Linked DNA regions of Homo sapiens: all the other regions are linked to region 4. The links come from fine-mapping of genetic effects on plasma protein levels. A gene starts in region 4. Each other region holds a variant in brackets. All regions are shown on one strand. Distances are from middle to middle. Region 1 overlaps CRISP3 (cysteine rich secretory protein 3). Region 2 has its middle 29 kb from the start of CRISP2. Region 3 has its middle 14 kb from the start of CRISP3. Region 4 holds the start of CRISP3 (cysteine rich secretory protein 3).

Evidence for each region. PIP is the posterior inclusion probability: the model's chance that the variant is causal. Protein levels are from antibody-based Olink assays in UK Biobank. Linkage for the fine-mapping came from a reference panel and not from the study's own genotypes, which makes the PIPs less certain.
Region 1: its variant is fine-mapped to the plasma level of the CRISP3 protein (UK Biobank, PIP above 0.99).
Region 2: its variant is fine-mapped to the plasma level of the CRISP3 protein (UK Biobank, PIP above 0.99).
Region 3: its variant is fine-mapped to the plasma level of the CRISP3 protein (UK Biobank, PIP above 0.99).

What each region holds. Positions count from the first base shown.
Region 1 is chr6:49,719,650-49,727,761 of GRCh38, reverse strand. CRISP3 (cysteine rich secretory protein 3) reads left to right here. Exons shown (of 8, transcript NM_006061.4): 8 at 1-386. Among named protein-coding and RNA genes, the nearest start is that of CRISP2, 10 kb to the right of the region's middle. RefSeq lists a silencer at 7,500-7,700. The variant T/A (reference allele first, on the strand shown) is at 4,352.
Region 2 is chr6:49,680,630-49,688,741 of GRCh38, reverse strand. It overlaps a transcript of CRISP2 not described here. Among named protein-coding and RNA genes, the nearest start is that of CRISP2, 29 kb to the left of the region's middle. The variant C/T (reference allele first, on the strand shown) is at 3,478.
Region 3 is chr6:49,754,808-49,762,919 of GRCh38, reverse strand. No RefSeq gene overlaps it. Among named protein-coding and RNA genes, the nearest start is that of CRISP3, 14 kb to the right of the region's middle. The variant A/G (reference allele first, on the strand shown) is at 4,109.
Region 4 is chr6:49,739,554-49,747,665 of GRCh38, reverse strand. It overlaps CRISP3 (cysteine rich secretory protein 3), which reads left to right and starts at 3,278. Exons shown (of 8, transcript NM_006061.4): 1 at 3,278-3,335. The coding sequence starts at 3,299.

The DNA.
Region 1 (8,112 bases), 20 kb after region 4:
CATTCTACAAAATATCCCTGGGGTATTTTAGAGTATTCCTCAAAACTGTAAAAATCATGGAAAATAAGGGAATCCTGAGAAACAATCACAGACCACATGAGACTAAGGAGACATGTGAGCCAAATGCAATGTGCTTCTTGGATCAGATCCTGGAACAGAAAAAGATCAGTAATGAAAAAACTGATGAAGTCTGAATAGAATCTGGAGTATTTTTAACAGTAGTGTTGATTTCTTAATCTTGATAAATATAGCAGGGTAATGTAAGATGATAACGTTAGAGAAACTGAAACTGGGTGAGGGCTATCTAGGAATTCTCTGTACTATCTTACCAAATTTTCGGTAAGTCTAAGAAAGCAATGCAAAATAAAAAGTGTCTTGAAAAAAAATACAAGAATTTTATTTCTTGACTCCATGATGCATCAAAGCTTTTCTTCAGATTATCTAGTTATTCTTTCCTAGACTTTTAACCTTCAGCTCCTTTATCCCAGTGCTATATGTTTGATTTTGTCCTTTCAGATAATATCAATGATCGGGTTGTCATATCAGATCGATATGCTTATCCAGTATCAAACTGCAGTAAAAATTTCAAGGATCTAAGTAATCATGAGGCAAAGGAAAACAGGAAGGTGCAAGACCACCAATGCAGCCCCTAGATGCTATTTTTGGCTGCATCTCTTAATCTCTCAAGCAATAAATTTCCTAATTAGTCTCCATTCAAAACCTTTCAATAGGTTTCAGAAGTAATTAGTATAATATTCACGATCTTAAACTGATCTGCAAGAAGCTGAATAATGTTTTTTATATTTCCCTCTCCAATCTCACTTCATTCCACCCTCCCTCATTTCCTCTGTTTCAGTAGGATGAGCCCGTTAAATTATCTCAAATTCCTCAAGATTATTTTTACCTTATGGTGTTTGTGTTTGCTATTGCTCTGTTTGGAAGAGTGATCACTGTATTATTTGCTAGAATTGCTACTTCACATTAAACATTATTTCATCAACAGATTCTTTTGAGCACATAATCTAGGGAAGCTCCCCCCATTTTCTCTCAGAGCTCCCTATATTTCTTCTTATAGTAATCATCACAGTGTGTAATAATTCATTCCTGTGCTCAACAAATATTTATTGAAGACACTTATGTGTTGAGTATTCAATTAGGCACTTTGAAATAGAACAATTAGCAAGACAGACCAAATTCCAAATTTCATGAAGTTCACACTCTAGCAGAGGAAAGAGAAAGAAAACTCTCTTGCAAATAAATACTTAATACAATGTCAGGAAATGACAAATGCTATGAACTAAACTTGGGAAGAGGATAGAGCATAATGAGGATAGGCTGAGAGGGAGAAATGTTAATTTAAATAAGATTATCAGGTAAATCATCTCTAAAGTGCTAAATACTATTTGGAGCTTTGAATTTATCCTTTTAGTAATGAACAACCAATTGTAAGATTTTAAACAGAAGAGTGACAAAATCTGAATTGTTTTTTATGGAACAAGAGCACAATACAAGTGAGAGAACCACCAATAGATAATTTGATAGAGAAGACTTTCAGGCAAGAATAGTGAGTAAAATGTTACTGAGGTAGGAATAAACTTGGCATATTTTATTAAAGGCAAGAAGTCCATAATAGCTGGAGTAGAGGGAGCATGGTAAAGAAAATATTAAAAAGAGGTAAGGAACTTAGGCAGGAATCTCATTATATGGTGCCCTCTAGGGTAGGTAAAGAATTGGGATATTATTATAATTAAGGCAGCAAATCATCAGAGTATATTAAAGAGTGATATTATTAGATCTAATATTGTGAGAGGACAAGAATGGAAGCAAGACATCAGTTAAGATGCTATTACCAGCCGGGCACAGTGGCTCACGCCTGCAATCCCTGCACTTTGAGAAGCCCAGGCGGGCGGATCACGAGGTCGGGAGATCAAGACCATCCTGGCTAACATGGCGAAACCCCGTCTCTACTAAAAATACAAAAAAATTAGCCAGGCGTGGTGGCGGGCAACTGTAGTCCCAACTACTCGGGAGGCTGAGGCAGGAGAATGGCGTGAACCCGGGAGGCGGAGATTGCAGTGAGCTTAGATAGCGCCACTGCACTCCAGCCTGGGCGACAGAGCAAGACTCTGTCTCAAAAAAAAAAAAAAAAAAAAAAAAAAAAAGAGGCTATTCCCTAGAAAAGAAATTAAGTTAAATTGTACTAAATTATAAATATATATGTGTATGTGTATATATATATATATTATGTATCATACTAATAAAATAAAGATATAATATGATCATCTCAAAAAATGCAAATCAATGCACTTAACAAGATTTAATAGGATTTAATGAAAACAATTTTCAGAAAACTATGAATAGAAAGTAACTTTCTTATTCTAATACAGAGCATCTGCAAAATCAATCCCTGAGCTAACCTTATACTTAATAGTGAATGAGTGAATGTTTTTTCCTTTTTTTCTTTTTTTTTTAATTATACTTTAAGTTTTAGGGTACATGTGCCCAATGTGCAGGTTTGTTACATATGTATACATGTGCCGTGTTGGTGTGCTGCACCCATTAACTCATCATTTAGCATTAGGTATATCTCCTAATGCTATCCCTCCCCACTCCCCCCGACCCATGACAGGCCCTGGTGTGTGATGTTCCCCTTCCTGTGTCCATGTGATCTCATTGTTCAATTCCCACCTATGAGTGCGAACATGTGGTGTTTGGTTTTTTGTCCTTGTGATAGTTTGCTGAGAATGATGGTTTCCAGCTTCATCCATGTCCCTACAAAGGACATGAACTCATCATTTTTTATGGCTGCATAGTATTCCATGGTGTATATATGCCACATTTTCTTAATCCAGTCTATCATTGTTGGGCATTTGGATTGGTTCCAAGTCTTTGCTATTGTGAATAGTGCCGCAATAAACATATGTGTGCATGTGTCTTTATAGCAGCATGATTTATAATCCTTTGGGTATATACCCAATAATGGGATGGCTGGGTCAAATGGTAATTCTAGTTCTAGAACCCTGAGGAATTGCCACACTGACTTCCACAATGGTTGAACTAGTTTACAGTCCCACCAACAGTGTAAAAGTGTTCCTATTTCTCCACATCCTCTCCAGCACCTGTTGTTTCCTGACTTTTTAATGATTGCCATTCTAACTGGTGTGAGATGGTATCTCATTGTGGTTTTGATTTGCATTTCTCTGATGGCCAGTGATGATGAACATTTTTTCATGTGTCTTTTGGCTGCATAAATGTCTTCTTTTGAGAAGTGTCTGTTCATATCCTTTGCCCACTTTTTGATGGGGTTGTTTGTTTTTTTCTTGTAAATTTGAGTTCATTGTAGATTCTGGATATTAGCCCTTTGTCAGATGAGTAGATTCCAAAAATTTTCTCCCATTCTGTAGGTTGTCTGTTGACTCTGATGGTAGTTTCTTTCACTGTGCAGAAGCTCTTTAGTTTAATGAGATCCCATTTGTCAATTTTGGCTTTTGTTGCCATTGCTTTTGGTGTTTTAGACATGAAGCCCTTGCCCATGCCTATGTCCTGAATGGTATTGCCTAGGTTTTCTTCTAGGGTTTTTATGGTTTTAGGTCTATCGTTTAAGTCTTTAATGTTTTTTTCTTTTTATTACTTATCATTGAAACGATGATTGCATCATTTTTTATCTGGAATCCATAATCAGGAATAAGGCAAATATGTTAGTTTGTACCACTTTTGTTCTGTAAACCAAAAAGTATCTGAAACAAGTGTCAATCAATTTAGAAAGTTTATTTTACCAAGGTTAAGGATGCGCCTGTGACAGAGCCTCAGGAGGTCCTGACGACATATGCCCAAAGTGGTAGGGCTACAGCTTGCTTTTATACATTGTAGGGAGATATAATACATCAATCAATACATGTAAGATTTACATTGGTTCAATCTGGAAGGGCAGGGCAACTCGAAGCAGGAGGGCTTCCAGGTCATATGCAGATTTTAACATATTTTGAATGGCAATTAGTTGAAAGACTTATTATCAGTAGAAAGCAATGTCTGGGTTACATTAGGGTGTCGTGGGGACCTAGGTTTATCATACAGATGAAGCCTCCAAGTAGCAGGCTTTGGAGAGAATAGACTGTAAATGTTTCTTACCAGGCTTAAGGCCTGTGTTGATGTTAATGCTAGAGAGGTATAATGAGGCATGTCCGACCCCCACTTCCCACCATGGCCTGATACAGTCATTCAGGTAAAACTTCAGGGTGCCCTAGCCAAGGAGAGAGTCCGTTCAGATGATTATGGAGAACCTTTGAATTTTACTACTGGTTTACAGTTCACTATTTAAATTGTAGCCAATGCAATAAGTAAAGGAAAAAAA[T/A]TAAAGGTATAGAGATTAAAAAGGCAGAAACTGCCTTAATTTGAAAATTAAAATGATCTTGTAGAAAATCTGAAGGAATCAACAAAAAAGCTACTAGAACTAGTAAGTTTAGCAAGGTCACATGATTAAAAGGAGGGAGGGTATCTTACTGATAGAGGAACAGAATAAGAATTACAGTGGAATTCTCATTAGAAACCATGCAAGCCATGCAAGCAAAAGAAAAAACCAAGATAATGATAAAGAGGATCACAGTTTTTACTGCTGTATGCCAGGGGAGGTGGCAACAAATATAGATCGGAACTGATTTAGAGATTTGTGACACAGAACATGGCAGGACTCTGTGTCTTTAACTCTCTTATTCTATATCAAGAGCCAAACTTCACTCATCACTTTTGTTGATAAGATCTACAAAGATTGTATTGTACAGCTGAAACTAAACATGAGAAAATAATGATTTCAAAGAAGCCTTGTGCTACATACGTGGGCATTATCTCAATAAGAGCCTTCTGATCCAAATAGCTTTCAATGCACAGAAAACAATATTCATCAAAATAAGAGTATGTATCTTTCCACATGCATAAAATATATCTGGTATTGTTCTAGCAGTGAATCCATACAGGTCTGCAGCAACCTCAATTCTTGCCTCCTCAGAAGAAATAATTAGACCAATGGAGCATAAGGCAGAAAGAGAGAACAAGGCAAGTTTTAGAGCAGGAATGAAAGTTTATTCAAAATCTTTAAAGCAGGAATGAAAGTAAGTAAAGTACACTTGGAAGAAGGCCAAGCAGGCAACTTGAGAGATCAAGTGCATGGTTTTGTCAGAGGTGTGTGAACCAGAGAAACTCCATCTTAAATAAGGGCTATGTCAAATGAGGCTGAGACCTACTGGGCTGCATTCCCAGATGGTTAAGGCATTCTAAGTCACAGGATGAGATAGGAGGTTGGCACAAGATACAGGTCATAAAGATCTTGCTCATAAAACAGGTTGCAGTAAAGAAGTCAGCTAAAAGCCACCAAAACCAAGATGGTGACAAGAGTGACCTCTGGTTGTCCTCATTGCTACACTCCCACCAGCGCCATGACAGTTTACAAATGCCATGGCAACATCAGGAAGTTACCCTATATGGTCTAAAAAGAGGAGGCATGAATAATCGACCCTTTGGTTAGCATATAATCAAGAAATGACCATAAAACAGGCAACCAGCCGTCCTCATGGCTGCTCTGCCTATGGAGTAGCCGTTCTTTATTCCTTTACTTTCCTAATAAACTTGCTTTCACTTACTCTATAGACTCACCCTGAATTCTTTCTTCTCTGAGATCCAAGAACCCTCTCTTGTGGTCTGGATCAGGACCCCTTTCCTGTAACATCTTTCCAGTGACCATGAAGAGATAATACTGAGGAGACTCCCAACCCAAAGGAAATAGACTGCAGCATTGATTGGCTGACTTTAGGTAAGTGGGGCACATATACCTGGGTAAAGAATGGGATTGCGTTAGAGGCCCACTTAGGGGAGTTAGAGTCTCTCCTAAGACAGAGTAGGTTAAAAGGCTCCTCTTAATAAAAGTAAGGATGCTTGACTGAACTTGGGTTCAAGGCCCAACTTAGGAAGGTTAGAGTCCTTCCTAAGATGTAAGGGGTTAGAGGCCACTGTCAGTAAAGTCCCTTTTGGCTAAAAACAGGTTTGCCACTAGGAATGTTTACCACTATTCTCTTTGTATTAATCTGCCTTGCACTTTTTGGTGACAGCTGCGGGTGACAGAATTAGGCATGTAAAGGATCATGGGACATGGGGAACTTTTTCCTCCATAAAAGGGGAAACTTGATTGCCAAAGGGAGTACTGGAAAAGATCCCTTCTCGACTGACAAGCAGCTGCCTGAACTTTTGATTCAGTGCCAGCTGCAATGGGTGGGTCTTTCTCTGGCCTCTCTGAGCACCTCACTTCCCCCATTCTGCTGTAAGCAATGCTTTTCTCCCTTCCCCTTACTTTCTCTCTCTGTGCAAACCTGTTGAATGAATGGCAAAAATCAGTGTTTATTTTCTCTTTAAAGTTTTGATTAATGAGAAAAAGGATTTGTGAGGCTAGTCTTAAACTATAATAAATATGGTGTGCTTTGTGTGTTTTTTTGTGTTGTTCTGTCATAAAAGAGTGGTACCTTAGGATAGAATGTGGGCTTAGTACTCCCATAAGCCCACTGTTCAAGATGACCCAGCAAACTGGTCAGTTACAAACTTTGCTGCAAGTCCCTGAAAAAAAAAAAAAAAAAAAAAACCTGGATGAGGTTTCTATCTTGTCTTGTATGTCCTTGGGAATGTCACCTTGTAACCATGTGGCAGTACTTTCTCTTGGTCTCCACCATCACAATGGCAGCCCAGGTTCAGGGTTCAATTCCCAGCTTAGGGAATGACTCCTTTCTTATTCTGTCTATGTATTTATGTATGTTGTGTGTGTAATATAAAAGAGCTTTAATTAATTGGTTTAATATAAGAGCTCAAATAGAATATTTTGTCAGAAAAGTAAAAAGTGTAATATCTTTTATTTAGTTCATGTGACTTAAGTAATCTTTGGGAAATAAAGATAGTTTTAAACATTATTGGTAAAATAAAAATATCTTCAAAATGTAAACATTTGGTCTAAATTATACAGGTTAGATATTAGGTTTGCTTTAAGGTCATAAACTGCTTCTTCAACTTTCAAAAATTGTTCAATTTATTTTGGAGCATTAGATTCTATATAAAGCCTGGGGACATGCAGTTGGGCGCAGGGGCTCACGCCTGTAATCCCAGAATTTTGGGAGGCTGAGGCAGGTGGATCATGATGTCAGGAGGATCATGACGTCAGGAGATCAAGACCATTCTGGCTAACACGATGAAACCCCATCTCTAATAAAAATACAAAAAATCAGCTGGCCATAGTGGCATGTGCTTGTACTCCCTCTACTCAGGAGGCTGAGGCAGGAGAATTGCTTGAACCCGGGAGATGGAGGTTCTAGTGAGCCGAGATCGCACCACTGTACCCCCCTCTGGGTGACAGAGAGAGACTCCATCTCAAAAAAAAAAACAAAAAAACAAAAAGCCTGGGCACATGTTAAATTAGCCATGTGCCCTATCTATGTAAACAAGGTTATAAAGAAAAGAGATTTTATATAAGAAAATATCTTGTATGGTAAATTCTTGTCTAAAGTAAAATAACTGGTTGTTTAAAAAGAGGGATGTTTAGGACAAGTCAGAAAGCCCAAGCACTTCGTAGATGGTCTGGTTAAGTCATGAAAGAATTTATAAAATAGAATTTATGAAAGAAATGTGCAATTTAAAGGTGGCTAGTCCTCTTAAATGCTTCATAAAATGCCACTATGACTCTTAACTGTACAACTTGCCTACTTTACAGCTAGGTAAAGCCTGAGACATGTGGAGTTAGACATTGGAAAAAGTCAGACCTTATCTGCACTTCTATCTGGATCCTAGGCTCTACATTTAGTAAACAATTAAAATCCTAACTTACCAAGGTTTTCACCATAAGTAAACGTTGATAAGAGTTAACATTATAACATGTAATTGAGACTACTGAAGAAAAAGTTTTACATGAAAGGTGTACAAAGAAAGTAAAATGTGTTTTCAGTTTAAAATAAATTATAAGAAGTCATGGGAATGTGACTTGTTTTTTGCCTAAAGGGTAAAGGATTGTTTGAGTTCAGATGAAGCTGAAGCTTTAAGCAAGTTGTGAAAGGTTTGTGAAAAATTAATTGTAAAAGAAATTCTGGG
Region 2 (8,112 bases), 59 kb after region 4:
TGAAAGTAATGAGATTCAAAAATGCATTTTTGTGGAAATAAGGTAATGTAAAGCAGTCATTTTGGAAAGAGGCTCTCAGCATAGACATTAATGGTATTCAAAATTTTCTACAAAATTTAGAGGCAATCCCCACTCAACAGGTAACATTAACAGAGTAAGATCTGTTTTCGGAATATTTTCTCATCACAATATAATGGCTTTTTGGCCTGTACCTTAAAGCCCAATTAGTTACCAGCTAGGTTGCTAGTAAATGCCCAGTGACTCATTTGTGGCAGATAATATTTTAATGTATTTTCCTAATTGAAAAAAAAAGCATTTTTATTTTGTATTTTATTTGTATTTATATTCTGTATATTTCCCAGTTGACTAGCCTTAAAAAATAAAAAAGAAACATCCTTATCTTAAAGTCTTCTAGTATTAACAGAAGAAGCACCACATAACACAAAAACAAACACGCTTTTCTAAATACAAGGAAAACTGAATCCTGTTCAAGCTTTTCTCCAACTGTAAATATGCATGTCACTTAATTTTTCAGAACCATAGTTTTGTTAATTTGTTTTAAAGATGTAAAACTAAGAGTGAACAGTAAGACTTTGCTTGTCTTAGGACTCATCCATTGCAGGTTGACCTCCCAGAGATGGGACTGACTTCCTTCAAAGCTCCATGGCAACAAGCTATGGCCCAGTGATTGAGACAGTTTCTCAAAACTTGAACATCAGTCCCTCGGCATATCAAAGGAAGGGCTGGTATTTCCCCAGTTGTGAACACAGGTGTGCCTAATACTGTTGTTTATTTGTTACGCCATGTGACTTTAACCATCCGGCTTAGATCCCAGGCCTCTGCTGCATCAGGGGAGGGGTAACTGTCCCCCAAGCCTGCCCCAATCCAGAAAGCAGAGGTACCACAGTGGAACTGAAGCAAGGTTCATTTCACTTCTGATCCTCGCCCCTGAGTACATGAGAGGAGAAACCCACGTTGTGTGATCGTGAAACTTAAAGGCTCCAGGGCTCAAGGATGGAAATCTCTAACAGTCTCATGTCTGAACCTACTGTATCTCTTCACACTGACCCAAATGGTGATGAACAACAGATTAACCCTCTGACCCCTCCTCTATGAATTTTCCCCAGTAATCCCAACTCCAGCAGTTTTGGCATGGGTACTGTGTGGTCATTTGCCCTTGTTCGCATGACAAGAGTTTTGTGCGAGAACACTGAATTTCAAGATTCTAGGAATGAAAAGTTTCTGCATAGAAAATTTAGAAGCTCAATGTGATGCTTCCAGTGATGTCAAAGGACAGGAAGAGTTAGATAATATTACTCCTGGCAGAAAGTGATGTAAGAAAAAGAAATTTTTAGTAGCTTGAGAATGATTCATGCTTTATCAACGTTTATACTACATATGCTAGTTCATATTTATTTATTGAATATGCTAATACATTAATAAAACATTTCACTTAATATTTTATACATTGTATATTTGTTAAGTATAAGATTAAAATTAAAGTTTTAGGCTTATAGACAGTACTGATAATTGTATTTAAAAATTAAAGGCTTTTTTAGGCACATGTGCACAATGTGCAGGTTTGTTACATATGTATACATGTGACATGTTGGTGTGCTGCACCCATTACCTCATCATTTAGCATTAGGTATATCTCCTAACACTCTCCCTCCCCTCTCCCCCCATCCCACAACCATCCCTGGTGTGTGATGTTCCCCTCCTGTATCCATGTGTTCTCATTGTTCAATTCCCACCTATGAGTGAGAACATACGGTGTTTGGTTTTTTGTCCTTGAGATAGTTTGCTGAGAATGATGGTTTCCAGCTTCATCCATGTCCCTACAAAGGACATGAACTCATCATTTTTTATGGCTGCATAGTATTCCATGGTGTATATGTGCCACATTTTCTTAATCCAGTCTATCATTGTTGGACATTTGGATTGGTTCCAAGACTTTGCTATTGTGAATAATGCCGCAATAAGCATATGTGTGCATGTGTCTTTATAGTAGCATGATTTATAATCCTTTGGGTATATACCCAGTAATGGGATGGCTGGGTCAAATGGTATTTCTAGTTCTAGATCCCTGAGGAATCGCCACACCAACTTCTACAATGGTCGAACTAGTTTACAGTCCCACCAACAGTGTAAAAGTGTTCCTATTTCTCCACATCCACTCCAGCACCTGTTGTTTCCTGACTTTTTAATGATCGCCTTTCTAACTTGTGTGAGATGGTATCTCATTGTGGGTTTTTTATTGGTATTTTCATTTTGAAACCAGAGAGGGAAATTTGGCAATATCTAACAAAGTTGCATGTGCATTTATCCTTTACTCTACCAGTCCTTTAGAAATGATCATTAATTCGCTTCTAGCAATTTCATATTGTTGTTCCAAGAATATGAAAATACATATGTGCAAGATTATTTATTAAAATGTTATTTGTATTGGAAATAATCTATACATACACAAAAGGCAGGTTAAATAAACTACAATGCATCCACACAATTGATTATTATGCAGCTTTTAAAATGAATAATAAGGATATTTATGAGCTGATATGGACGTATCTTCAGTATATATTGCTAATTGAAAGACAGCGAAGAGCAAAACATTTTTATAGTATTCTACTTTTTGTATTAAAAAATGATAAATACAAAAAATATATGGCTTCACATTTTTGCAAAATGTTGATGCAACATAGAGTATACTAGAAAGTATTGACACTAGTATACCATGGGTGGCTGAGAATGGGGTGGGCTGGTTGGAGGATGACAATGGTGTAAGAAAAAATGGTTGGGAGGAGTGATATTTCTCTGGGTATTCCTCTTTGTATAGTTTCAGCTTGTGAATTATATTAATGTCTTACATACTCATTAAAATAAAGTATAATTAATATAATTAAGAAGTGGGGGAAAGCCCAAAAACAGGATAGAAACAAAAAACAAACTATATTTCAAATAAATAATCACAATAAAAAGTGGGGGAAAAAACAGCCGACCTAATGAGTATTATAATGCCATATTCCTTCTAGGTAAAGATAAAAACTGCAAACAAATGTTTGACTCCAGTCAATAAAGTTGTGTTTATTTTTACCATAGACACATGAGTTAGTAGTTCTGAAACTGACTATATATGTTACGACTGAACAAATGAATAAATACATTATGAATAATGAGAACCAGGTTTCTCACTATTAGAGAAGGGATTTAAACATATGAGAAAGGAGAATGTAGGAATAAACCCTGTGGTGTTCTATTGAAATTGGTGGTATCGGTATGAATTTATGGTTTTTAACATACAAAGATAAACAGAGCTGTCAGGGAAATACCAGTGAACAAAGTGAGTCCCTGCCTTCATCAGTTGATAATTTTAGAAGTAGGAAATAAGGACATAGACATCTCCAGTCACTGCAGAGACAACCTTTCCTTAGGATCATAAAAATGATTCATAAAATGATACAGTGTAACACCAAAGGG[C/T]GGAAATGCTGTCTTACGACTTTCTAAAGGAACACAGTGTGACTTTAAGTTAGAGGAAATTTCAGAAAACACCATTTCATGCTGCTCATATGAAGTGTCCATCTTTATCACTGCAGCATTGGTGGCCAGTGGCAAAGGCAGTGGGGGCTGATGAGGCAATGGCAGCCATGGGAGGCATCCGGGGAGCCCAAAACAGAAACTCATTTGTGAGACCTGGAACTATTGGCAGTGTGCTCACAGAGTTCCCAGGCATCAGAGTCCTTAGCATCCCAGAGCTGTGAAAGAGGCTGGAGTAGAGAGTAACAAAAGGGGATATGCTACAGAGGAGATGAAAGTTCTGTTAGTATGCATGCAAAAAGTCTCTATGAGCCAAAGGATACCCAGTACTAATTGACTGAAAGTTTAGACTTTCTGTCCCTTTCAATAGTAGGTAGAGGGGAAAACTATATAAGTGTGTGTATGTATGTGGCACACAAATCCAAACACATCCACATATAAAAACAATGAGAATGATCTTAAACCCCATGGTATTGAGAAATATGATTGTATAAGATACCCCTAATTTACATGTTAAAATTTTAATGCCATTGGATATTGATTTATTTCAAATTAAGTAGATTTCTTTTTTAAGTTAAGTATGTAAGATATTCAAGAGTAAGAGGTACTAATGATACTCAATACATTTTAATTTTCTTCTCTGCTTCCCCTTAGCACTGCAGAAGTTAATTAGAAAACATACTGTATCCCAGGGGCCATGCTGAATTCCTTATATAGTCGGTCCTCCATATCTGTGAGTTCTACGTCCATGGATTCAACTAACCACTGATCATCAAAAATAGTAGGAAAAAAGTACTATACAGATGGTTGCATATGTATTGAACATGCACAGACTTTTTCTTGTCATTATTCCCTAAAAAATACAATATAACAATTGTTTGTATAGGATTTAAATTGTATCTGGTATTATAAGCAATCTAGAGATGTTTTAAAGTATGTGGGAGGGTGTGTGTAGGTCATAACAAATGCTACACCATTTTATATAAAGGACTTGAGCTTCAGTGGATTTTCGTATCTTCAAAGGGTCTTAGAATAAATCCCCCATTGCTACTGAGGGACGATTATATTCATTTTTGCACTTTATCCTCCCAATATTCCTTTCTCTTTATTTTACGGATGAGGAAACAAGGATAGGAAGATTAAGTACTTTGCCCAGATACAATCAGCCAAGGAACATCAAAGCATGTACTCAGTACAGATATAGTAGGACTCAAAGTCTTATACTTTTAAGCACTACCACAATTCTGCTTCCTGATGAAAACTAAAATTAGCTCATAGCTTGAATGAAAAATATATTCAAACTGGACATTTAATTTGAAAATAAATATTTCCTTTATATAAAGCTCTTAGGTAGATTACTTGTTCTGTATTCATGAAAATGTGTTCACTTTTGACAATGTGACATTTAAAACCTTTAGTTCAATGGTAGTCAGGCTTAGAATATGTCTTTATAAATTACATAGTGACTTAGTCCTATCAACTTCTATATATATATATATATATATATATATATTTTTTTTTTTTTTTTTTTTTTTTTTTTTTTTGAAATGGAGTCTCACTCTGCTGCCCAGGCTGGAGTGCAGTGGCATGATCTCGGCTCACTGCAACCTCCATCCCGCCAGTTCAAGTGATTCTCCTGCCTCAGCCTCCCAAGTAGTTGGGATTACAGGCGCCTGCCACCGTGCCCGGCTAATTTTTGTATTTTTAGTAGAGGCGAGGTTTCACCATCTTGGTCTTGAACTGCTGACCTCGTGATCTGCCTGCCTCAGCCTCCCAAAGTGCTGGGATTACAGGCATGAGCCACTGCGCCCGGCTGTTTCTATTATATTAAAAACCCATAATTATAAAAATGGTGACAAGAAATGGATTAAACCTTGAAGGGTCCTGGTTGGGTGAACATGAAGGAGCCCTTTAGAGTGCTATTTACATAGGTATACACATGTTTAGAAATTAAATGAGCTATGCAATTAAGATTTTGTGTGCTGTATTGTATACACTGCATGTCTCTATTTATTTATTTATTTATTTATTTATTTATTTATTTATTTTGAGATGGAGTTTCACTCATGTCGCCCAGGCTGGAGTGCAATGGCGTGATCTCAGCTCTCTACAACCTCTGCCTTCCGGGTTCAAGCAATTCTCCTGCCTTAGCCTCCAGATTAGCTGGGATTACAGGCACATGCCACCATGCCCAGCTAATTTTTGTTTTTTAATAGAGATGGGGTTTCGCCATGTTGGCCAGGCTGGTTCTGAACTCTTGACCTCAGGTGATCCCCCCTTTTCGGCCTCACAAAGTGCTGAGATTACAGGTGTGAGCCACTGTGCCTGGTAACCTCAACTTGAAACAGGAAGAAAAGAAGGGAGGAAGGGAGGAAGGGATGGAGGGAAGGAGGGAAAGGAGGAAGAGAAGGAGAGAGGGCAGGAATGAGGGAAGGGAGGGAGGAAGGAAGGAAAAAGAAGGAAGAAAAAAGAAAGAAAAAGAAAGAGAAAAAGAAAGAGAAAAAAGAAAAAGAAAGAGAAAGAGACAGAAAGAGAGAGAAGAAAGAAAGAAAAGAAAGAAAGAAGAAAGAAAGAAAGAAAGAAAGAAAGAAAGAAAGAAAGAAAGAAAGAAAGAAAGAAAAAGAAAGAAAGAAAAAGAAAGAAAGAGAAAGATGGAGGGAAGGAGGGAGGTGGGAAGGAAGGAGAAGGAGGAAGAGGAGGAACAGGAGGAATAGGAGGAGGAGGAGGGAGGGAGGGAGGGATGGGGAAGAAGGAAGGAAGAAAGGGAAAGAGAGAAAGAAAATAAATAGATAACTAGAGTATGTTATATGGTTGCTAGAACTAAATCAGGTGTTCAGTTTGGACATGTTGAAAGTGTAGGCATAGAGAAGACAGTTGAATATATAAGGAGGGATTTAGTCTAAAATGGAGATAAAGATTTGAAAATCATCTTTGTATAGACGGCACCTAAAGCCACAATACCACCTGAGATTCCTGGGAAGTAAGTGAAACAATATGCTAAATCCCAGAATTTAAAAAAGTTTGTGAAAATAAGAGCAAAGGTCCACCAAAAGTGTCAAAAACAAGAAGATGAGGAAAGGATGAAATAGTATAGTATAGATGCCAGAGAGACAGATGATTATTTAACTTTTATTTTTTATTACTTTATTTCACGGAGATGGATCTTTAAACTCTACAGCCTGGCACAATTATCTGAAGGAGAAAAAGAATGATCTAACCTGTGAGGACATAGTAAATAATTATTTAAATGCTTGGGGGATATTAAAAAACATTTCAAGGTGATCATGAGATCACTGTCAGTTAACAAGGAATAATGACAAGGAGGAAAGCAACATATTGATTAACATATGACAAATGGAAAGGGCAAAAAAAAATCTTGAAGCTGGGCATGGTGGTGTGCACTTGGAATCCAAGCTACTTAGGAGGCTGAGATAGGAGGATTGCTTGAACTCAGTAGTTTGAGGCCAGCCTGGGAAAAAAATAAAAGAAAACTTTGGCATTAATCTATGAGAAATTCCTCCAATTTAAAGTGATTTCATCATTTTTAAACCATGATATTATATGTAAAACAGTAAAATATAATTTTTAAATTTGCTACACTAAATTTGTTTCTTTTTGATAGTTTATAAATATAAATCAAAATTGATTCTGTTTTATAAATCTATATGTTATTGCCCACATTTAATCTAAAGTTTCAGCAGAATTCATTAAGTACTTTGTTCAAATGTGGGTCTATATACTAATATTATTATGGATATCTTAATCTAGTTGAAAAAATGCTTAATCTAGTTGAAAAATTACTACAGGGCTTAGTAACCAAAACAGCATGATACTGGTAAGTACAAAAACAGATAAACAGACCAGTGGAACAGAATAGAGAACCCAGAATTAAGACAGCACACCTACAACTATCTGATCTCTGAGAAATCTGACAAAAACAAGCAATGGGGAAAGGACTCCCTATTCAATAAATGGTGCTGGGGTAACTGACTAACCACATGTAGAAGATTAAAACTGGACCCCTTCATTAGACCATATATAAAAATTAACTCAAGATGGATTAAACACTTAAATGTAAAACCCAAAACTATAAAAACTCTGGAAGACAACTTAGGAAATACCATTTAGGGCATAGGCATGGGCAAAGATTTCATAATGAAGATGCCAAAAGCAATTGCAACAAAAACATAAATTAACAAATGGGATCTGATTAAACTAAAGAGTTTCTGTACAGCATAAGAAATTATCAACAATTAAACAGACAACCTACATAATGGGTGACAATTTTTGCAAACTATGCATCTGACAAAGGTCTAATATCTAGCATCTACAGGAAACTTAAATTTACAAGAAAAAATAAAACCTCATTAAAAAGTGGGAAAAGGATATGAACAGACACTTTTCAAAAGAAGACATTCATGCAACCAACAATCATACCAAAAAAGTTCAACATCACGGATCATTAGAGAAATGCAAATCAAAACCACAATGAGAGACCGTCTCACACCAGTCAGAATAGCTGTTATTAAAAAGTCAAAAAATAACAGATGTTGGCAAGGTTGTGGAGAAAAGGAATGC
Region 3 (8,112 bases), 15 kb before region 4:
GAGTCTAAACTCCACTTCCAGAGATTCTGAGTCAGTGGGTTTAGGATAAAACAAAACAAAACAACATAAAACAAGACAAAAATCCACATGCTTTAGAAAAAAAAGGTGAGCACCTTGCTGTTTTTTATTTGCTTTTAGGAGCAGTGCATTAATATATCCAAATGATCTGCATACTCTCTCTTCTCTCCACGGAAGTCAGAATAAATTATACATACCAAGTTCTCAGCAAATACTATGTGGCTTATGCAGATGATCCCCAACTTATGATGATTCAACCTGGGTTTTTCTAGGATGGTGAAAAAGTGATAGACATTCAATAGAAAACATTCTTCAAATTTTGAGTTTTGATATTTTCTCAGGCTAGCCATATGTGGTAGGATACTCTCTTGTGATGCTGGACAGTGGAGATGAGCCGCAGCTCGCGGTCAGCCAGGCAATCACTGGGGTAAACAACCAATCTGTTTTTCACTCTCAGTACCGTATTCAATAAACTACATGAGTTAATCAACATTTTATTATAAAATAGGCTTTGTGTTAGATGATTTTGCCCAACTGTAGGCTAAGGTAAGTGTTCTGGGCATGTTTAACGTAGGCCAGGCTAAACTATCCTGTTAGATAGGCTGGGCATATGCAATGGTTTGGATGTTTGTTCCCACCAAACTTCATGTTGAAATTTGAGCCTCAATATCGTAAGTGGGGCCTAATGGGAGATGTTTGGGTTATGAGAGTGGATCCCTCACCCACAGATTAAATCACTCCTTCGGAGGTGAGTTACCATTCTATTGGTTCCTGAGAGAGTTTGTTAAGAAGAGCCCAGCACTTCCTACCGCCTTGTTCTCTTGCTGTGTAATCTCTACACATGCCAGCTCCCCTTCACCTTCTGCCGTGAGTGAAAGCAGCCTAGAACCCTCACCAGGTGCAGATGCCTAATCTTAAACTTTCCAGTCATCACCTTTGTGAGCCAAATAATCCTTTTATTCTTCATAAATTTCCCAGCCTCAGATATTTTGTAATAATCACAAAATATGAACTAAGAGAAATGGTAGCAAGAAGTGAGCTGTTGCTATAAAGATAGCTGAAAATGTGGAAGTAGCTTTGGAACCGGGCAATGAGCAGAAGTTGGAAGAGTTAGAAGGCTCAGAAAAAAAAAAAAAAGAGAGAAAGTTTGGAACATCTTAAAAATTGGTTGTGACTGTGAACAAAATGATGACGGAAACCTAAACAGTAAAGACCATTCTAAGGAGGTCTCAGATGGAAATGAGAAATTTCCTGGGAAGTGGAGCAAAAGTCACCCTTATTACATCATAGCAAAGAACTTGGCTGCATGGTGTCCATGCCCTGTGGCTTTGTGTAATGCTAAACTTAAGAGTAATGACCTAGGCTATCTGGCAGAAGAAATTTCTAAGAAGCAAAGTTTTCAGAGGATGTATAGGAAAGCCTGGGTACTCAAGCAGGCATCTGACATAGGACCATAACCACCACAAAGTGTTCCCTTCTGGGCAATGCCTAGTGAGGCTGCAGAAGTGGAGCCACTGTCTGGACCCCAAAATGGTGGAGAAACTGACAGTATGCCACTTCAGCCTGAAAAAGCCACATGAATTCAACTTCAACTTGTGGGGGCAGCCACATGGGCTGCATGCCAGAAAAGCCATGAGATGGGACTAAGCAAGACTTTGGGAGCTCACCTGTGTGCCCAGGATGAAGAACATAAAGTCAAAAGAGATTATTTTGGAGCTTTCAGACTTAATGTCTGCCCTGCTTAGTTTTGAACTTCCAAGAAATCCTTGCTTTTGGCTGATTTCTCCCTTTTAGAGTAAGAATGTTTACCCAGTGCCTGTACAACCATTATATTCTGAAAGTAAATAACTTATTTTTAATTCTACAGTCTCATGACTCTCAACTCTCATGGGAATGTGGTAGTAGGAGATTGAGGAAAAGGATTTACAGAGTCAAGTCTTGAGGCCCAGGGGAAGGCAAAGCCCAGGGAGGAGGAGCAGGAGGCCAGCTACAATGAGTCCACAGAAGACAGGGAACCATGTACTTGTGCAAAGGAAATAAGGTGAAAAGTCTATATGACCAAAAATGACCAAAGTTGCTTCTAGATAAATAACATAGTTCACATTGGACAGAAGTAAAATACTTTGTTTTACTCTTCCCTTCTCAGGCATTGTGACAGAAGGGGAAGGGAAAGCCAAATGCTTCCAAGCTTCTCTCTGGTCTGTGCATTGGCCCAGTTTTTGGGATCTGGAGTGGCTAAGTTAGCCCAAAGCGTTTCAATACAATGCTGGAGGGAGGTGAAATGCTCTATATTATAAAGTGAGAATGTTTCTAGAGTTTCTGGAAAGAAGCCAGAGAGGAGCGAATTGTATGGGCCACTTACACCAGAGGCAGGAAGCAAGTTGGTAAAATAAATAAATAAATAAATAATAAACCTTTTGAAGGTAATTTGAAGGTTTTAAAATACAACCTCAGAATTCTTTGACACTCTACCAATTGAGAGGCGAGGTCTATGTCTTCTTTCCTTGAATCTGGGGTCTGTGACTGCTTGACCAATAGAATATGATAGAAGTGATGCTGCTCTGATTTCCAGGCCCAGGTCTTATGACATAGGCTGCCATTAGCCAGTCAGCCATGTGGTGCACCATGTTAGAAGTAGATCCTCCAGCCCTAGTCAAGCTGCCAAGGGAAACCCATATAGATCAGAGAAAAGCCGTCGCTACTGACCTCAGCCCAGACTGAAGGTGCGTAGCAAAATACCTAATTTGTGTTTCTTTAAAACACACAGAAAACAGAGAAATAACTTACCTGGTTTCTAGTCTTTGTTTATGAGATAGATATCAGGAGAAGTTTCCTAGCTAGAGCTGGAGAAATTATGTGCCTTCGAGTAAGCAAATTAATAGCAATAATTACATCACTACATTTCTACTGAGGCCTACTTTGATGACATGTTTTGAACATAACTATTAATAAAAGAAAATGATACTATTCGGAGAAACAAATGTTCTGATAACATTTATATTTGTGTATTCGTACGTGAAGATGTAACCAAAGTTCTTTTTCAGCATCAATCGTCTTCATATTGATCCCAATAAAATTTTAAGATGAAAACATTAGAAAGGTAAAGTAAATGAAATACACCTGAGCAACCAAGAGGCAGAGTATAATTTGTGGCTTAGGGATCAGAAAGAAATTGTGGAGATAAAAAATTTAAAGCAATTAAATGAGCTATAAAGAAAATATAGTCTTGCCTGAGAGGTGTTTATCTTTCATCTTAGGAAACAATTTGGCTTTTTACAATTGCTCTCAATAAAGAAACATAAGCTTATTTCACCAAGGTTGACTGTCTAAAACAAATTATCTATTCCCATTTACAATGCCACCACTAATATTTAAAGACTTGTAATCTGATTGGTTTAAAAAAATGCAACAGTATGTCATTGCTCAAAAGGCTCTCAACATTTTCAGTATAATAATGACTCCTTTAATTTGACATTTGAATTTTTTAGGAACTAGTCATGAGCAATTAGGATGTGTGAAATGACAGATGACATATACCCAAGTGCTTTTTATCAAGTATTTTAATTTACAGGTATAACTCTCATTGGATACATAAAAGATACTACTGATAATTACAACAATTTCAATTTATATAAATCAACTAGACAGAAGTTAAATGTATGCAACAAATACAAAAGTTGAAAATGGTAATTTATTTTTATGATAAATGTCTTTTTCTTAAAATGTTAAATAAGGAAGCAAAGAAGAATTAGAACAGAAAGCAAACATTATTTAATTCTCATCACTGAAGTGAGAGTTGTCATCATTTGGAAGATACAATGCTTTTTTTGTGGTCAATGATACTGAGCACTTCTTATTAGGTAACATTAATCAAAGACTACATTCATAATTTTAAACCTGGCCTTAAAGAGAGTAGCAATAACACAATACCTGTACAAGGTGGCTATCCATTTACAGTCCTCTTCATAGAAAAATATTGCCAAAGTTAAGAAAACACCACCAAAAAGATTACTTGCAAATCATTCACCATTAATTTCTGATTTTTTAATGTTGTATTCATGTGTAAGCACTGCTCTGTTTATTTCCCAAG[A/G]GCAAAATATGTCATCAATAGAAATTATGCCACTCACAGGATAAATTATGCCACTGCCCACAGGATTCTCAAACTTCCTCCTCAAATAGCAAAATATATCTTCCTTCTTTCTAGTTTTTCAGCAACAATAAAGATATAATCTCTGCCAATTGCACACACACACACACACACACAATTGTCCTAGATATCTGAAGATAATACAGTGGATGCTATTAATTTCTGTATATCTATTTGTTGAACTATTAATTCTAGTGATGCTTATATCCATACTCAGATTATAGACACAGTCCTGTCACATATGTCAAAGTTTACAGAAAAAAAGAGAAAATTGATTCTTATTTGTCAGAAATCAGGACTTCAGTTTTGGATTGTCCTTCAGATGCTTCATTCGCAAGACCTTATTATTTCCAGCAATGGTTCGGTGCTTAGATTTTAAAACTTTGATCTAAAGTGGTGAGCAAAAACACAACCCTAATTATGAAAATTTATGAAATGATAGTGTCACATATGACCCTATACTAAACAAGCTACAGCAAGTTAGTCTTTAACAGACAGCAGACTAGAAGCAGGTAGTGTGTGCCACTCCCATGGAGAGAAATAGAGGGGTGAGTAAATACAGCACCTTCAGTGGAAACATCCAGGTACACTCATTAGGGTTCATCAGAAAAACAATTCAACCCACAAAGAATGGAGAAAAGAATGGCAGGATATCTCCCACCCAGGAGCAATGTGGAGCCAGGGGAGTCTCCCCAGCCCAAGGAAGTGGTAAGTGAGTGAACACTCCCAGGTACTGATGTTTCTCCCATGGATCTTTGCAACTCTTGAGTCAGGAGACCCCTTCATGAACCTATTCCACCAGGGCCTTCAGTTAGACACACAGAGCTACACAGAGTATTAGAAGAGCAGCTGCTCAGACACACATGGAGCCCCAAGTGAGCTTCCCAATAAAAGTGGCTGCAGCTCTGGCAAAATGGGAGGTTAGACCTCCATACATACCTCTAGGAAAGGGGCTGAATACAGGGGCCTGAGCAGCCACAGTCTGCAGACCTTGCTTCCATGGCACCTCACTGGATAAGACCCACATCTTAGAACTTCACTCAGCTATGGGTAGCAGTATTATACCTCCCTGCGACCAAGCTCCCAAGGGGTGTCTTGGGCCACCATCTATGCTCTTTCACAGCCTTAACTATTAATACCTCTGAGCTCTGAGGAATCCAAGACAACTAAGGACTGGAGCAGTTACCCTGGTAAAGTGCAGCAGCTACACAGAGAGGTAACCAGACTGTTTTTCCATGTGGGTCCCGGATCCTATTTCTCTTCACTCGTCAGAATCTCTCAACTGAGGTCTACAACCACCCCTGCCAGTGTTTTCCAGCTGGCAGCAGTTCCAAACCTTCCTGGGATGGAGCTCCCAGAGGGAGGGCAGGCTTCCATCTTTGCTGTTTCGCAGCCTTCACTGTTGATACCTTCAAGTACTGGAAAATTCAAGGTGATTAGGGACTGGACTGGATCCCCTGCATACTACAGCAGCCCTGTGGAAAAGTAGCCAGACTGTTTTTTACATGGGTCCCTGATCCCATATCTCCTCACTGGATGGGTCCACACAGCCTGGGTCTTCACCCACTCCCCACTGGGGCTATCAAGTCAGTATCAGCTCTGCAATTCCACGGGACAGAGCTCCCAGTGGGAGGGGTGGGTTGACGTCTTTGCTGTCTCATAGCCCTCACCAGTGCTATCTCCAGGCTCTGGAGAGTCTGTGAAGACCAGGGTCTTGTCTGGACCCTCAGTACAGAGCACTTACCTCATGGAAAGGTGACCGGACTATTCTCCATGCAGGTCCCGGTCCTCGCTTCTTCCTGGGCAGGGCCAACCAACCTGGGACTCCAGTACAACCACCCTACCCCCACCTGACCACTTCAATCAGAGGCAGCCCAGCATTTGTTTGAGGATGAAATCCCACAGTCAGCTTGCAACCCCTGCACCACTGTAGTTGCAGTGGTACCATCCTAATAGCCCTTGGGCTGGGAAAAGAACAAAGGGCCTAGTCACTACATTGGCACCTCCAGCACATCAAGGCCACCATACAGAGAGGTGCCTAGCCATTCTTTGCTGGGAACTCCCAAACCCCACTCTTTACCAGGCAGAGCTCCCAGTTCATGACCAAAGAACAGTCACCCCACCCACAGCTGAGCATAAACTACTGGTAGTGGCCCAGAGTTTCCCTGGGAAGAGGCTCCCAGAAGCATCTGACAGCACTTCTGCCACTGCCACAGCAGTGGCTCTATCCCTGCTGCCCTTGTTCTGGGGAAGAAACAAAGACCTGAGGGCTACACCCAAGCTTACAGCATGCCACAGTCACCATATGGAGAGGAGACCAGTCTCTCCTCCTGGTGAGCCATCAACCCCCTGCTCCCCAACAAGCAGAGCCTCAAGCTCATGCCAGCAAGGCATCCACACAACTGCCCTGGCTGAAACTTCCAGCAACAGTGGCTTCATGTTTCTCAGAGGTGAAGCCCCCAGGGGCAACCGAAAGCCTCTCTGCCACTGCAGAGAGAGTAGCAGTGGTACTTCCCATACTAACGAAGGAGAAAAGAACCTAAGTGCCTTATCCACAGCTCCAACAAGCAGCAGTCAACCCAGAGGAAAGAAGACCAGGTCCCATTCACCCACCCACAGTGCTTATCATCAGGCACAGAACTCCTGGCTTGAGCCTACCACACCGACCCCCATCCTGAGCTGATTACACTGATCAATTGATGATCTGCATCTCTCTGGGGCAGAGCCCCCAGAAGACAAGTAAGAGACCTCGTCTTCAACCACTGCTAAGGTAGGTCACTTCCTCTGTTGCCTTCAAGTTAGGGAGGAAACATAAACCCTGAGATCTCCCCAGAGCTGTGGTGGGCAGTCTGGGAGTACCAAGCTATGATCTACAACCAACACTCAAGTGAAAGAAGGGTCCACAGTTTCAGAGTATTGAGTACTGAGAGGCAGCTGCAACTGTGAGAAAATATAAGACAGCCACATGACTGAGCAAGAGCCTGCCTATTGACCAAAATGCCTAAGAGCCACCTACTGGATCACATCCCAAAGCTTTGACACCAAAAATACCTTGCTAACATAACCCCCTGTGAAACCAAAGACAAGAAATAAGTCAGCAGCAAATTAAAAAAGACTCTGCACAAAGCCTTAGCCCTGTGAAAACACCCAGCAAAGGAGGCTATAGACTGTACTCAATCTACACCACAATTAAAGGAACACCCATCATACACAGATATGAGAAAGAAACAATGCAAGAATTCTGGCAACTCAAAAGGCCATACACACACACACACACACACACACACACACACACACACACACACACACACACACATATATATATACTCTGATGATTATGTGTCTTGGGGATAATCTTAGTTTTTTAACCCAAAAATAGTTATTTTATATATTTATTTATTTATTTTTGAGATGGAGTCTCCCTCCATCATCCAGGCTGGAGTGCAGTGGCATAATCTTGGCTCACTGCAACCTCTGCCTTCTGGGTTCAAGCAATTCTCCTGTCTCAGCCTCCCAAGTAGCTAAGACTACAGGCATGTGCCAGCGCATCTGGCTAATTTTTGTATTTTTAGTAGAGACGGGGTTTCACCATGTTGGTCAGGCTGGTCTCAAACTCTCGACCTCAGGTGACCCACCTGCCTCAGCCTCCCAAAGTGCTAGGATTGCAGGCATGAGCCACTGCTCCCAGCCAGGCCAGAGTATGTTATGTCCTCCAAACTATCACACTAGTTCTCCAACAGGGGTTCTTAATCAGACTGATTTGGCTGAAAGGACAGAAATAAAATTTAAAATACGGCTGGAAGTGAAGATCACCAAAACTCAGAAGAACAGCAAAATCCAATAAAAGCAAACCAAGGTCTGGGTGTGGTGGCTTATGCCTATAATCCCAGCACTTTGGGAGGTTGAGGCAGGCGGATCACCTGAGGTCAGGAGTTTGAGACCAGACT
Region 4 (8,112 bases):
ATGCACCTGAGTCTGTGCTCCTTAATTTATTGGTGAGGATACAGAAAATGAGAGATGCTCAATCATTTTGTTAAAGTCACCCTGACAGGCTTTGATAGAACTGCACCTTAAACACTTGAATTTCTGGTTAAACTATGATTGTTTCCTAAATACCTAAAACAAGAAAGACTTCTTATAAAGACTCCTGAATTGGCAGTTCAATCAAACAAAATGCATTCGTGGAAGACTTTTATGTACTCAGGAAATACCAGGCTTTGGAAGGGATAATAATACAAATGTTAATAATTCCATTTATTGAGTGTCACATGCCAAGCATCGCACTAATAGTTTAATTATGTATTCAGTACATTTTTATACACAAATTATGCTTTTCAGTCATTAAAACCAACGTATGATATGAAAATTCACATTTCAGAGAAGAGAAAACTGAAGCTCAGAAAGGATTTCTCAGACCTGGCAATTTCCAAAGACTGTAATCAGTAAACTATAGGTAGTTGGTAATAATGGGGAAGTAAAAGTCATAAAAAGCTGGGTCAAGAGTTCAGCTGTAAGGCAGGGATCCCAGTTGCCCTTGTAATAACTAGTCAGTTTTGGGTGGTCAGTGTAGAAATCCCAGGAAGGCAGCATTCAGATGTTGTTGTATCTAAGATGAGAGAAGGGCTGACTAGGAAGAGATGGAAGCTGTGCTTTATTTATTCATATTATAGACAATCTGGTTACACTGTACTAGTCAAAGCATAGGAATAGAAGAATAATTTTAAAGAGTAAGAAAAGGAGCATTCCTAAAACAAAATGTAATGATTAATAGCAACAGTCGCTAAGAGACTCATTGATAAGTTTCAATAGAATAGTGGGAATAGATTAAAATGTATATACAGGAACAAACTATTTGCTCTTTTAAGATGGAACTTAGATATCCAAATAAGAGCTGGAAGACACTCACTGCTAAAATTGGGAGACATGGATCATGAAGGGCCAGCAATGACCTTGGGACACGTAAATACAGAAAAGACAACCTAATCATGGGAAATGAGAGAACAAAGGTGACTAGAAACAGCCATTTTGGACACTTAAGGTCAGATTGAAGTCAGTCTGTCAGTCCAACGTGTGTATGGTATTTTGTGACCCAAAAAGACCACATATACTTATTTAGCTTAATAATAAATGTACCAATATTTGACAAGCAAAATGCCTTCTACATCATGGTGCATCTAGTGGTCATTTAGTCATAACTCAGTAAAAAGTTAGAGAAAAACTATCAAGTTTGAATAATGAGGCAAAAATATTTTTCCTTTTTATACTGTTTTGTGTCTACTTATGGTAATTTCTCACAGAACTGCCTATAGCTTAGTAAGTCAAACCATGTCCTAAAACTCAAGTGCAATCCCACAGCTTACAAATATTAGGGGTAGGTTTGTCTAGATACAGAAGAAAAGTGCATAAAGTGGGAGAGAATTAACACTGGAAATACTTACTACATGGCAGGCAGCTTACATATATTATGTATCACAATTAAATACAATTAATATTATTCCCATTTATGATAAATATGAAAATTTACAATCAGAATAATAATTTCCTAATAAAGTAGGTGCTGTGGCTCATGCCTGTAAGTCCAGAACTTTGGGAGGCCAAGACAGGAGGATTGCTTGAAGCCAGAAATTCGACACTAGCTGGGCAACATAGCAAGACTCTGTCTCTACAAAAAAATTTAAAAAATTAGCTGTGTATAGTAGTGCACACCATGGTCTCAGCTCCTTGGGAAGCTGAAATAGGAGATCCCTTGAGCCCAGAAATTCAAGGCTACAATGAGTTCTGATCTAACCACTGCACTCCAGTTTGGATGATAGAGTGAGATCCTGCTTCAAATAAAATAAAATATGATATAAAATAAAATAATAAAATATAAAAATTTCCCAATACACATTGGTATAGAAATTTAGCCCATTTCCATTAAAACAGAAATATCAAGCTTTTAACAACATTCTACACCACTAAGTAGAGAAGAGAATGGGCTGTGGATGCTTCTGGGTCTGGTCCTTCCCCACAAAATACATTTTGCCACAGAAAGAGGATTGTGTAGAAGGTTGTTCCATGGTGATTTTTTCCACATAGCTGATTTGGTTTATTGAGAGCTTCCACTTCACATGTTCATAAAGTAAACAGATTCTAGGAGTTACTTGGAGACATGGCAGCAAATGGTTAACCATTTTTTAATGGTAAAATCTGACCTGAGTTTCTGAGTTCTCAACTCTCTTATAACAGACATTTAGAAGTATCCAATTCTTGAACTCAAAATTAACTATAATTTTAAAATGTGCCTATTGTGTAGACATTGATCTGTGATTATACATTTTGTCACATTGATCAATAAAGCTAAATATAAAAATGAAAATGAACAGAAACTATTGAATTATGCACCACAAGGTGCAATCTATATGCCAATATGAGCATGCAGAAATGTCTGCGTGCTATGTATATGCTACTTGTGATTTATTAATTTATACTTCTTTATTTATATAAACTCAATATTTAAGATTATTGTATTTTAGAATCAGAGGAAATCTGAAATTGTTAGTCCACCCCACTTCATTATTGTGCTATGGAAACAAGCCTGGAATGATTGACATCTTCCATAGATGAACAGAACCAAATAATGATAATTTAGCTTGGAGATCAATATTATCTTTAATTTTATACAACCAGAAAATACAAGTAAATACAGCACATCTTTGAATATAGAAATACCAATGAGTTATGGTGTGTTTGGCCATTGAGTTCTGAAAGTCACTGTGGCCTTGTATTTACAAACATTAAAGATAAAATTATTATCCAAAACAGTAATGTCCAATAGATTATTAATAAACATTTTAGATAGCTGTAAAAAACATTGTGTTCTCTAGAGTTCATAAAAATTATGAGCTTAATTTCAATCCAACAGAAATAATTCTGAAAACTCTAATGTTGTGATGCTAATAATTGGGCTAAGAATTTTCAAACTATTGACTGGCAAAAACATGGATAAATTGTAATATATGAACTTCAAAGAATAAATGCACAATTACAAAACTTGATATAGCAATTTATTTTTAAAAGCCATTTGAGGAATCACCAAATAATTTCAAAATCATGACTAGAAAACCAGCAATGAAATTTGAGACTACTGGTATGACAAATCCTGTTTCAGGCCTTGTTGATCTAGAGTTACTTGCACAACCAGAATTTGCCAAAACAGGAAATAGGTGTTTCATATATACGGCTCTAACCTTCTCTCTCTGCACCTTCCTTCTGTCAATAGATGAAACAAATACTTCATCCTGCTCTGGAAACCACTGGTAAGTGATAACTCCTTTATTTCAAGGTGAACATTATTTATTTCAAGGTGAACAACACATTTATACCTTATCAATGATAAAGTGATATATTCGTATATTTTATCTACAATTTTCCAAAGTTTATTGATAACTTTTAATGAGAGTAATTATCTTAATATATTCATTTTAAGCTGAGAAGCTAATACATAGACAGCTTTATTATTCCAAAAGCACTTTTATCCAGTTTGAAATTTAAATAAATTTTTACCTTTCATTCTAAAGTAATATAACTAATTCCCATGTCTATGACTTGTGGAAACAATTGTACTAGAACTATTTTTAATAGAAAAATGAAAAACTATGAATATATGTGTGTGCATACTTTCACATCAGTAACTTTTACTAATATTAAAACATACAGCTATATGGGATGCCATAGCAAAAGTTTTAAATTGGTCAAAACAAAATTATAGCACTGATCTCAAGATTAAAAAGTATTTTATTAAAGACCATCAACATAAAATGCAATTTACCTCATGAAATGCACTCAGATCAAAAACAAAAAAAAAAGGCTTTTAGAAGTTTTTCAGTCAAAAGTCAGTCTACTCAGTCATGTTTATGTAGGTAATTTAAATATAATATCTATCGTGCATATTTCATCTAAGGAAGCAATTTCCACATACGGCTTTATCTTCCGTAGCATATTAGAAGTGATTCTGAAGAGTCAGATAGTAGGAGACCACAGAACTACCTAATGACAACATGAAAGGGGTTATTTACCACTAGACAGAAGATTTTAAAGTAAAATGCTTTTCTTCCCTGTGGCTAAATGCTATCCAGGAAACTCTGGGAGTATTTGCAATAGCCATAGAAGATCCGGTGTTGCCTCTTCTGCTAGTTAAAACCAAATCTAGAATGTCTGCCTGTATGACTAAGACCTCTGAAAGTGGATCAAAAGAAATTAAATTGATGACAAGTTTCAAGCCTGGGAGTTACCCTACATTGATAAGTTATGAGGTAAATTGGGGCTTCTGATTTGTAACAGGCAGGGATGAATTGGGAGGAAGAGTGTCAGAATTCTCAAGTAATGTAAATCTGATAATTGCTATGAATTTCAGTTACGTTATTTATTGAATTCAAGTAAAAGGGAGGGAATTCATCCTTGAAAAAAAAGTGCTTCTCAAGAAATGCAAGACAGCTATTCTTATTTGGATATCTTTACGAATTTCTTACTTGATGAAGTCTAGCAGTTTTGCAAACTTTGCATATTGGCATAGGCTGCTTTCTGTATCACAGATACATAATAAGATGAAAGAAAGTGATCAGAATAAAGATTAACTATTAAATTTTAAGTAAGAAAATATTGCATCAAATACTTTTCTGTGCTGTGACTAGTTTATAAATGTGTCTATACCTATAGTGCACACATTATACTCACATGTGTTAATGCTTTTGACATCTTTTCTAATCCACGTAATCCTTTAAAATATTTCTATAGTCTGTTCTTCCTCCTTTGCTTTTTAATGTTACGATGTTTGGTCTGTCTCTTAAGTTTTGTATTTTCCTCCACCAGTTGATTTATCTGTTCCTACAATAATATTAAATTTTTGTCAACAAATGTTTGAAGTCTATCTTAATAACTAATATGAAAAGATAACCCAATTAATTCTTTCTTTTTTTTCTTTTTCTTTTCTTCTTCCTTTTTTTTTTTTTTTTTTTTGAGATGGAGTCTTGCTCTGTCGCCCAGGCTGGAGTGCAGTGGCACACTCTCGGCTCGCTGCAACCTCCACCTCCTAGTTTCAAGCAATTCTCCTGCCTCAGCCTCCCCAGTAGCTGGGATTACAGACATGCACCACCATGCCCGGCTAACTTTTGTAGTTTTAGTAGAGACGAGGTTTCACCATGTTACGCAGGGTGGTCTCAAACTCCTGAGCTCAGGCAACCCACCCTCCTTGGCCTCCCAAAGTGCTAGGATTACAGGCATGAGCCACTGCGCCCAAGCAATTCTTCTTTTAAAAGTTTACTCAGTTATTCATAAGCCACTTAAAATTTGTATTGGAATTAAAGTAAACAATTATCAGGTTAGTTTAGGATTGATATCTTTATGCTAACATGTACCATTTAAAAGCATTACAAAACTCTCAATTTATTCAGAACTTCTGCTATGTTCTTTATTAAAGTTTTAAGATTTTTTCCAAAAAGGATTTTTAAATTTGTTTTGTTGTTTCCCAGATACTGTATAGTTTTTTTAACTGTTATAAGTGTTTCTTAAATCTTATATTCTAGTTGAGTGTTTCCAGTAATAGAAATGGTATTTTTGTAAGTTGATAGTGCATCTAGCAAAATTGTTAATTTTGGTGTGTTCTCCAGATAGATGATCTTATCATTTGAAAACAATAACAATTTTACGTCTTCTCTTACAAAAGTTACAAATATTTTATATATAATAATATATTTTATATTATTATATATAACATAAAATGTATACATTACATTACTTGTATATATTATATATATATATATGTATATACTTTCTTTTCTTATGGCTTTGATTAGGATCTCTCCAGTACTGTGTTAAATAAAAGTGTTAGTCATTCTTTTCTTGTTCCCAATATTAAATGAAATGCACCTAGAATTTCTCCAATAACCATTATATTGGGTATAGATTTGCAGTATATGCTTCCTACCAAAGTAATGATCTCTTCTATTTTTTCTTTAAAAAAAAAAAAAAAAAAAAAAACTACATACAGGGGTTGAATTTAATGACGTATTTTTTGTCATATTACTTTGCTTTAGTCTGTTAATGTGATGAATTTTACCAATGAATTTTCTAATTTTGAATTATTCTTGCAGTCCTCATATAATTTTACTTGGTCATGATATTTTTAATATATTTTTGAAATTGATGAGTTAATATTTTGTTAGGATTCTTGCAATTCATTTATGAAGTGGGCTTATGTATTATTTACTATTATTCTTACGTCTTTTATGAGTCAATCCCGGAATTATATCCACTCCTCAGATTACATTTCAGGAAAAAACAGCATTGGGAGGAAGTAGTCAAGCTAATTTGAACCATACAACACTAGGGAGTAAGAAGGCGTGAGTATAAGAGCACTGGAGAGTGCTATCACACATGACCTTATTATCATTGGTTCTTCACACAGGATGGTACTTTCGTTTTTTGTTTTTTTTTTTTTGGTGGTTTTTTTTTGTTTGTTTTTTTTGTTTGTTTGTTTTTTGTTTTTTGTTTTTTTTGAGACGGAGTCTCGCTCTGTCGCCCAGGGCAGTGGCGCGATCTCGGCTCACTGCAAGCTCTGCCTCCCGAGTTCACGCCATTCTCCTGCCTCAGCCTCCCGAGTAGCTGGGACTACAGGCTCTCGCCACCATGCCCGGCTAATTTTTTGTATTTTTAGTAGAGATGGGGTTTCACCGTGCTAGCCAGGATGGTCTCGATCTCTTGACCTCGTGATCTGCTCACCTCGGCCTCCCAAAGTCCTGGGATTACAGGCATTAGCCACCGCATCCAGCCCCACACAGGATGGGTCTTACAGTTCTTCGATGCTACTTTGCTGACACATAGCACTAGAGCAAGCGTTTTTCTGTTGTTGCAGAATTTTGCAAATAAAGAGGAATCGATTGTTTTGAGGCAAGAGTAGAAACTAACAGGCATTACTTTAGACCAACCACTGCTGTTGGATGCAGCACTCCCCTCTCCTTCACATTCACTATACACAACACACACACACACACACACACACACACACACACACACATCCATATACACATTCTAGAAGTCATGAGAGACTTTATTCTCCTCAGATTTTCTCACTATCTTTTCAGTATTTTCTTGGAATCCCTGTTTCCCTCTTGCTTCTATAATTTTTTCAGAGTTAATTTTGGGGTGGCAGCAAGAAGCTTGCTTATTTTGATATTGTGCCTGAAATAAAAGCCAAAGGCTTGCTTTATAAATAGACCATTTGATTAATTCTTCTCTTAGCACTAAGCAAATTTGTCCTACTTCCTAATTTGCAAATCCTTATTTCCACAAAATGGACTGTTAAAGCCAGATATGCCTATAGAAGTTTTTGTAGATATATGTTGTCAGTCAATATGCAGTGATATCAGGTCATTTGATAAAATGATTTCCTTTTCCAAGGGAGTGTTTCAAACATACCAGTGGTCCTAACATCAGTGTGAAGAAGGCACAGTATGTTACAGTTTAATTGTATTATATACATTTATGCTTCAGAAAGACACAATTTGCTCTGCTGTAGATCTGGAATTAGTAGCAAACCATCACTATTTGAAATCATAAATCTTTGAAATCCAGGGACTTGGTTTTTCTCTAATCACACTTGAGATAAATTATTAATTTCTTTGAAAAAGGAAAACCAGAACAGAACAGAAAACCATATAAAAGGTAGGACTCAGTGACTTACACATAGCAAAATAACTCTTTCAAGTGAAATGAATTAAGAGAAATCTACTGCTTATTTCCAAGGAATAGTAGAAAATAATGTATAACTAATACACTTAGAAATTGCTTCATGGAAGTGAATGACAGGAGAGGCTATTTTTTTTTCATTCTTTCTAGTACCTTCTATGTGACGCTACTACTAAATGGAATTGCAAACAAATCATTTTCCACTTGCACCTGCTATTTACAGTAGTCCCTTGGGAGGAGAGGTGGGGATGGAGTGAAATATTACAGCGACTCTCTGTCACCATTATTGGTCTTAAAGCTGATGTTACATCTTTATCATATTTATCTCATTCAAGTTGTTTACTCCCTGAG